Homo sapiens: one gene and its partner. The protein of the gene in region 1 purifies or fractionates together with the protein of each later gene. This does not show direct contact. Each region holds a gene or a part of one and is shown on either strand. Other genes may lie near its edges.

Evidence for each region.
Region 2: the proteins of C2CD4A (region 1) and ZNF496 purify together in Homo sapiens (affinity purification with mass spectrometry; one large-scale study listed by BioGRID and IntAct). This does not show direct contact.

The regions. Positions count from the first base shown.
Region 1 is NC_000015.10:62,065,774-62,070,056, reverse strand, and holds the start of C2CD4A (C2 calcium-dependent domain-containing protein 4A), read right to left. Parts: upstream 3,081-4,283; 5' UTR 2,969-3,080; intron 2,473-2,968; 5' UTR 2,444-2,472; coding exon 1,334-2,443; 3' UTR 1-1,333. UniProt on the Homo sapiens protein: May be involved in inflammatory process. May regulate cell architecture and adhesion.
Region 2 is NC_000001.11:247,307,737-247,311,546, forward strand, and holds part of ZNF496 (zinc finger protein 496), read right to left. Parts: intron 2,721-3,810; coding exon 2,588-2,720; intron 2,071-2,587; coding exon 1,963-2,070; intron 853-1,962; coding exon 739-852; intron 292-738; coding exon of another isoform or gene 137-291; exon of another isoform or gene 1-136. UniProt on the Homo sapiens protein: DNA-binding transcription factor that can both act as an activator and a repressor.

The DNA of each region.
Region 1 (4,283 bases):
TACACTCTCCACTGCCTGTTCCAGCAGATAAACTCACCTGGTTACAACAAGGCTGGCACCCATTTCTATGATTCTGAGGCCGGTTAGCTTCCTCCTCAGAGCTTTAGACCCATCAGCTCATCTCAATGCCTGAAGTTATTAGCATGAGATAATAAATTATTCATTTCAAGCAATTTGTTTTTTCACCAAAAGCAGGATGAGGAATACAAGTAGACACGAACTTCAGTGTCAACAGTTTCAGAGAGAAGTTGCACAATACTCGCAACTTTAATAGCGAGCCCTTTAGACACTGTGGTATTACCTACATAAGAGTAATGAGTGAAATGCTGATTGTCTAGGTTCAAATTCTGGCTCTGCTCTTTATTCTGTGCCTCAATATCCTCATCTGTAAAATGGGCATAGCAGTGCCTCCTTTTGGGGGTTAAAACATAAATTAACGCTTGTAAAACTATTTATTATTATTATTATTATTTGCAGACAGGGTCTCACTCCGGTTGCCCAGGTTGGAGTGCAGTGGCACGATCTCGGCTCACTGCAGCCTTGACCTCCCAGGCTCAAGTGATCCTTGCGCCTCAGCCCCAGAGTAGCTGGAACTACAGGTGCGTGCCACCACGTCCGGCTAAATTTTGTATTTTTTATGGAGACGCGGTCTTCCCATGTTGCCCAGCCTGGTCTCAAATTCCTGGGCTCAAGCCATCTGCCCGCCTCGGCCTCCCAAAGTGCCAGGATTACAGGCGTGAGCCGCCACACCTAGCCTATTATAACTATTATTTAAGCTTAGAATATTAAAATGGTTTCATTTTCTCCAATGCTTTTCCAGTGAGATATAGCTAGGAGTATCAGGCTGGCGTTCCAACTAATAATTCACTGTTGATCTTGGACAAGTCACTTCACCTCTTTTGCCCTCATTTTCTTATCCGGGGTCTTAAACAAAATGCTTCAAAAGTAAATGCTCCAAGATGGTCTCCATGCATGTTGTGGAAAGCACCAATTTTAAAATGAGGTGATTGGAGCAAACAGATCGCCAAGACACTTTCTAGTTCTAACACTTCATGTGATTCATTATTTCCTAGGCGTGTGTGGTACATATGGTATGCAAATGGCTGTCTATATTGGGAAACACTGTAGAACCATTCCATTTGCTGAAAAAAATTCTGGAGGTATCTATGGAAAATATCATATCTTTTACTGGGATAGTTAATCTAGAATCATCTCTGCCAGTGTTGTACTGAAACGGGACTGATAAGAACAACAAATACACGTTTATTTTGTACCACGCGGCTGTCAGTGTCCGGAGTCCCCCGGGCAGAGCGCCCCGGGGAGGGCTGGGCCCTCAGAGCAGCAGGAGGGCGCCCAGGGACAGCTCACCCTGGCCCAGCAGGCGGCCCCGCTCCCGGCCGCGGCCCTCGTCCCGGGCCTTGACTCGAACGGCCAGGCGGCGCACTTCGTCCTCCGAGAGGCCGTCGAAGCAGAAGTCCTGGTCAAAGGAGGCCTTGCGGCTGCGCCCCACCACAGTGCTGCATTGCCGAAGCGCGGTGCCCGGCGGCCGCAGGACGAGGCTGAGGCGACAGCTGACGGCTCGGGGCCCGGGGGCGCCTCCGGCCGGGCTCTCGGCGCGGAGCAGCCGGAGGCGGAGCCGCCCGGTTCCCGGACAGTACTCGGCGGCCAGGCGCAGGGCGTCGCCGGCGCGGCCCAGAGCCACGGTGCCCTCGGCCTCCAGGCGCTCGGGAAACGGGACCCGGGACGACGGCGGGCTCGTGGAGGGGGCCCGGGCCGGGGACTGGGAGCCCGCGCGGCGCTCCTTGTCCTCGTTCCCGCTGGAGACGGAGCGGACGCGGGTCAGGCGGCGACTCCTCCCAGCCCGCAGCGCGCGACTCAGCAGCCCGTCGGGGACGCGCAGGAGGCGGCAGCCGCGGGGCCGCCGGGCGAGCGCGTCCTGGGGCGGGCGGGGACAGCCGGGGGCCGCGGGGGTCGCCGGGCCCGGAGCTCGCGGGACGCGCAGGGTCCCCAGGAGGGCGTCCGGGCCGCCGCCGCCGCCGTAGGTGTGGGCCCGGGGCCGGGGCGCGGGCGGGCCCCCGAGCAGGAGCGACTCCTTGCGGCGCGTGTGCGGGCTCTCGAGCAGCGCGCAGAAGCCGTAGGCGGTGCGCACACGGGGCAGGTGCGGCAGTGACAGCGCGGCCTGCGAGCGCGGGTCCCAGTCTGTGCGGCCGGCGCCCTCGTCCATCCCTGCTTCTTCGACCCAAGAATTCCGGAGCGCAGCCAAGGCCAGGCGGGGCATGAGCCGTGGCGGGATGCAGAACTCAGGGATGCGGTCCGGAGTGAGCACATTTGCGCACGCGGCGGTGGTGCGAGACTTGGCTCCGCGGGCCCGACCCGGGAGAAGCCAGTCTCCGCTCCGCCGAAGGCACTCAGGACCCAAGCGGAGTCGCTCCAGGCACCACATCTGGCCACTCTCTGCTGGAGCTTGTCTACCTGCAGTGCACAAAGGCACAAGGATCGTCAGAGCGAGTCCCGCAAGGTGCAGTAAATCCTGTTCCTTTTCTCCTATTAATACTTTCGGGGTGTTTCTTCCTGCCTTTCCCGAAACAAGGCAAACTGCTCTTGCTTGCCGCTATTGCAAACTATTTTTTCAGTGAGCGAAAAACAACTGTTTTTCTTTTGTCCTATCTCAACTGTGTTGTAATACACACTTCGGAGCTTGTTTTAATCCCTCTCCGCCCTGGCTGGCCTAAGGCAGAGATTCACAAAATGCTGGATTGTAACTTCAGTCGCTCTGTTCTCTGTGCCAACGATTGCCTTGCAATCGTTTCCTGACTCTTTGGACCATAGCAGTCTAGTCCTCAGCTAGAATTAAAGTAATTGTTATTCCTTCCGGGAAACTGTGGCTGGTTCTCCCCTTGCAGAGGCAAAGAGCCTCAGACGAATCCCCCAGGGAATTAAGCAAGCCGATGGGTCCCTCCTAAAATACCTGGAGTCCTGCGTCAGATGGGTCTCTGCACCTTTCTGCCTGGGACACCGACCAGGAGAGGCGCTTAGCGGCTGGGAAATTCAAAGCGCGCGCGGCGGGGTTCAGCACCAGTGTTCAAGGACTGCCAGCCTGAGCTTTTATACCTGCCGCTGGGAGCGCTTGCCAGTGGGCCGAGCAGAGGGGCGCTGCCTGGTAACCTGACGCCAGGCTCTTCCCTGTCCCTCTGCCACGTGGCTGGATTTGCTGAGCAAGGTTTGGAGACCCAGTTCTTTCTCTCTCCGGCTTCAGGTGGAGGTGTTTTCCTCGGAAACCCCGAACAAGTTTCTGTTTCCTCACATGCAAAATGGTATTAAGTCTCTACTATACCGCAGAGTCATTGTGAGGATCGACGGGCGTAATGAATGTGAGCACGTAGAAGTACTCTACATTCACCATTAAAATGAAGACAAGTCCGGTTTGTCTTATTCTTGCCTAATACCCTTCCCCAAATCCAGCTTCCCAGTTGCCCAGCTTTCGAAGTTCTTTACTTGCTTTCCGGTTTTCAGTTCTGATTTTAGATGTTCTTTTCTGATTATAAACCCCTCTGGGTTAGGGGGAACATTTCATGTCTTGATCAGGGTGGAGTTACAGAGGTGTATCCATATGTAAAAACAATCAACTAGTGTACACTTAAGATTAGAGTACTTTATTGTATGTTATACATCAATTTAAAAAATCACAATCTACTTCTTAAGCCATGTGTGCTGATTTTTTATCGGGAAAATGTACACTTGCATGCATCTGGGCAGTTGGAATCATCCTTTGGAGGCGCCCTGACTACATCTGGCCTTTCTAGGCTGTGCCCACCAGAGAGACCCTTTTCCTTCCTTTTGAAAACTAACCTGTGTTCATTTTGTAAGAGAGTTGCTTCCAGTTAGCTCAGGCTGAAAGAGATCTGAGGCATTTTGTTCAGCGTTCAGGCAGATATTTCTGCCTAAGATACTGCCTTGCAAACTATTCACTTGTCTAAATAATATTTAATGAATTAAATTGAATTCATGCAAAAATGATTTCAGGATAGGGCATGTGCATTTTGTTTCCAGGACACACAGGCACTGTGCTAGATGATTTACATATAGTCTGTAGAACTGTCACAGAAACCCTGCATATTCGGATCATCCTTATTTTATAGATGAAAACTCAGTTTCAGAGGTCAAGTATCTTATCCAAGGTCACATAATGATGGGAAATGGAGGAAATCATACCTACTAATGGGTATAAATGAGCTGTTTGGGGAAATAATAATGTAAAATATTTTGCACCATGTAACATGGTA
Region 2 (3,810 bases), on another chromosome or scaffold:
TATGTGTGAGTTGGTCTCCATAGCTGCAGAAAACTACAATGACACGTGGGTTCAGGTAAGAATCAGAGGCTTGGGTTTTGTATTGAGAAGAGAAAGATGGCAGTATTGTAGCCTCTGCTTCTGGAAGTGGTGACTTTTACCAAGACGACTCAGAGTCTACACTGTGGCTATTTCTCTGAAAGCAGGAATGGAACATACACTTTCCAAGAGTCCTGTGCAGCTTCAGTATGCCAGAAACCTGCTCTTTAATCCCAGTTCCAAGATTCTGTGCCAGGATGCTGGCCATCCATGCTGAGAGAAGAAAAACACTCACTGCATCACCAACAGCACTACAGCAGCACCCTGCTTTGACACACCCTCCCCGGCCCCTGGGAAAGGCAAGGAGGGTGAGCCTGGGATTGGGAGTGAGCTGGAGAATGACCCCAGCACAACGGAATCAGGGCAAGCAGCTAAGAACACCACAGCAGAGGTCGGCGGGGATCCTGAGGGGTTCAGTTCCTAACTGTCCCATGCCATCACCACCGCACATTTACATCACACACCCACATGCCCCCAACACACAGGTGCACCCATGAATGCACACACTCACACATGCAGCACACCACATATACCACATGTGTATGCACGCACACATGCATTCAACACAACCATCCCCTATGCCACACATGCATACATACATTCATGCGACACACCACAGACACACAGGGACAAACCCATACCTCCCTGACCCTTCTTTACCTGGGTAGGTGTTTTGAGGCACCACCGTCTGTGGGCAGGCCTGGAACTCTGGCACCTGCAGCTCCTCACGTTTCCTTCTTTCTTCTACCTGGAATGGCTGGAGACTTGGAGAGTCTTTCCAGAGGAGGAAATGGAAAAATTGATTTGTTTTGCACCTACAGCACTACCTGGGAGGGTGCTATCCGAATAGATGCCAGGCTACGATCTGGGGGCGGCCCTGGGCTCCGTCCTGGGGACTGGCAGGGGGTGGCCACTCAATAAGTGTCTGCTGAGTGAATGAACCTGAAGGCAAAATGGGCCAACTCCACAAACATGAGCTCTGACGCTAGACAGAATCGACGTAGATCCGGGTTCTACTCCACCCACTCTATGGCCAGAGACAAGCACTTCCCCCAGCCCCATATTTATTCCCACTTTCTGTGGTGGGTTTTCTATAGTCATCACCACAGGCTCCTGCACACTCCGCACATCCTGCACAAACAGCTTGTGCAGAGCCTACAGGGTAGAGATGGTACAGGAGCTACTGCACCACACCAAGTCTCTGAACGCTTGTTCCAGGTGGGGATGGTGTGTCAAAACCTTGTCTGCTTCATGCCAGCTCTAGGTCCCAAAGGGGAAGAAGGTGTGGAGCTGCTGATGATTCTGTACAAAGCTATTTCCTCCTGAAGGAGCAGATGCTTCGAAGCACCATGGCATGGAGATCATGGGTGCAAGTGCTGGCGACACAGCCTGAAGGAGGGCTGGAAACTGCTGCTGCTGAGCCCCAGCACCTCCCCACACCCCAGTGTCCTCACAGCACCCCTGTACCAGGCAGATGGGAAGACTAGACAGGTGAGGCACCTCAAAGGGCTGCGCTCGGTGCCCAGTTAGGAGACACTCCCTCTGCAACTAGGCTTGTCATGAGTATCTGACTTCACTCCTGGAGGGGCTGCTGCATTGTCAGCACAAACCAGATGTTACTTACAGGCAGAGGAGAAAGACATTCCTATTATTTCCCAGTCCTTGGCCAAGGGAGTACAATTCCAATGCCTGGCAAAATTAAGATCCTCCATTCTTTCTATGAAAAGTCAGGGACAAGGCAAGACATGCAAGACCCACATAGAGTCTGGGGAAATGAAGAAGGCAATTAGGGGCCGCAGAGAGAAGCCAGAGAGTGGGCTCACCTCCGGCTGCCAGCAACCCTTCCCCCTACTCTGTCCACTCAGTTCTGGAATCATTACTCACCCAAGTAGGAGACCTGGGGCACTTCTTTGCCCTGGAGATCCTGCAACTCTGGAACGCGTGGCTCATTCTCCTCTCCCTGGGAGAGATCTGGCTGGGCAGCTAGGTCGTCTGTTCAAAGAAAAAGGCAGGGTACATGTTTATTAGTAATCTGATCCTGCAGCAACCAGGGCTGGTCCAGAAGAGAGAAGGCGGAGGGATGCCCAGCGGGCATGGCACCATCAGGGGCGAGAAGTGAAAAGGCCAGAGCTGGCAGTGCAGGGGCAGTGGGGGCAGCACACGCAGGGAGAGCTATGGGCTTGGGGGTCTCTCTGAGGCTTTCGGGTGTAAAGCAGACATAAAGGGACAAAACGGTAAGAACGATGGAAGAGAAATGGACATACAGCACATGTTCTATTTGGTTCTGATAAGCCTGATGTGGCGAGACAGCAGGTGATGGTCAATCGGACACACTGCCTGTAGGGCCGCTGTGTGCAAATGACCTCCTGTCCAGGTTGGGGGTGAACAGAGAGATCTGATGCAGGCCCCGCTTCCCTGATCCTATGGGACGAAGTTGACTCTTACTCCAAGTGAGAACTCCCCTGCCCAGTTCCCTGGTCTTGAGGTGTGGGGGGAAGTTAAGTCTTACTTGGAGGCATTGAGACCCCGTAATCCTCCCCAATGATGAACTCTCCATAGAAGCCAGTCTGGGCAGGATCTAGAAGGGACCAATCCTCTTCAGAGAAGCATAAAATCATGTCCTTGAATGGAGAAACCCGACTCTGAAAGCACAGGAGAACAGGGATGCCTCAGTCCGGGACGAGCTAGGTGTCTCAGTCTTAGTCCACTGAGGCTGTGACAACACAACGCTGTAGGACGGGCAGTTTCTATACAACAGAAATCTGTTCCTCACAGTTCTGGAGGCTGGACGTCCAAGATCAAGGTGCCAGCAGGCTGGGTGCCTGGTGAGGGCCCACTTCTTGGTCAAAAGACAGGTGTCTTCTGTGTCCTTACATGATGGAGAGGGCAAGGGAGTTCTCTGGGGCCTCTTTTAGGAGGGACTAATCCCACTCATGAGGACTTTGCCCTTGTTACCAGATCATCTCCCCAAAAGTCTCCACTTCCTAATACCATCATCTTGGGGATTACAATTTCAACACAAATTTTGGGGAGATATAAACACTGAAACCATAGCATTCTGCCCCTGGTTCCCCCAAATTCATATCCTTTTCACATGCCAAACAAATTCATTCTATCCCAATAACCCTCAAAGTCTTAATTCATTCCAGCATCAACTCAAAAGTCCGGAGTCCAACATCTCATTTAAATATCATCTAAATCAGTTACGGTTGAAACTCAAGGCACAATTCTACCTGACACAAAATTCTCTCCAGCTGTGAACCTGTGAAATGAAACAAGTTATGTGCCTTCCAAATAGTGGTGAGGCCGGCGCAGTGGCTCACACCTGTAATCCCAGCACCTTGGGAGGCCGAGGCAGGCAGATTACCTGAGGTCAGGAGTTTGAGACCAGCCTGGCCAATACGGTTAAACCTCATCTCTACCAAAAATACAAAAAGCAGCCAGGCGTGGTGGTGAGCACCTATAATCCCAGCTACTTGGGAGGCTGAGGCAGGAGAATCATTTGAACCCGGCAGGCGGAGTCTGCAGTGAGCTGAGATCATGCCACTGCACTCCACCCTGGGCAACAGGGTGAGACTCAGTCTTAAAAAAAAAAAAACAAAACACACACACAGAGACACACACACACACACACACACACACACACACATATATAGTGGTGAGACGGGCACAGGATAAACATTCCAGTTCCAAAAAAGGGAAACAGAAAAAAAGAAAAGGAGTAACAGGTCC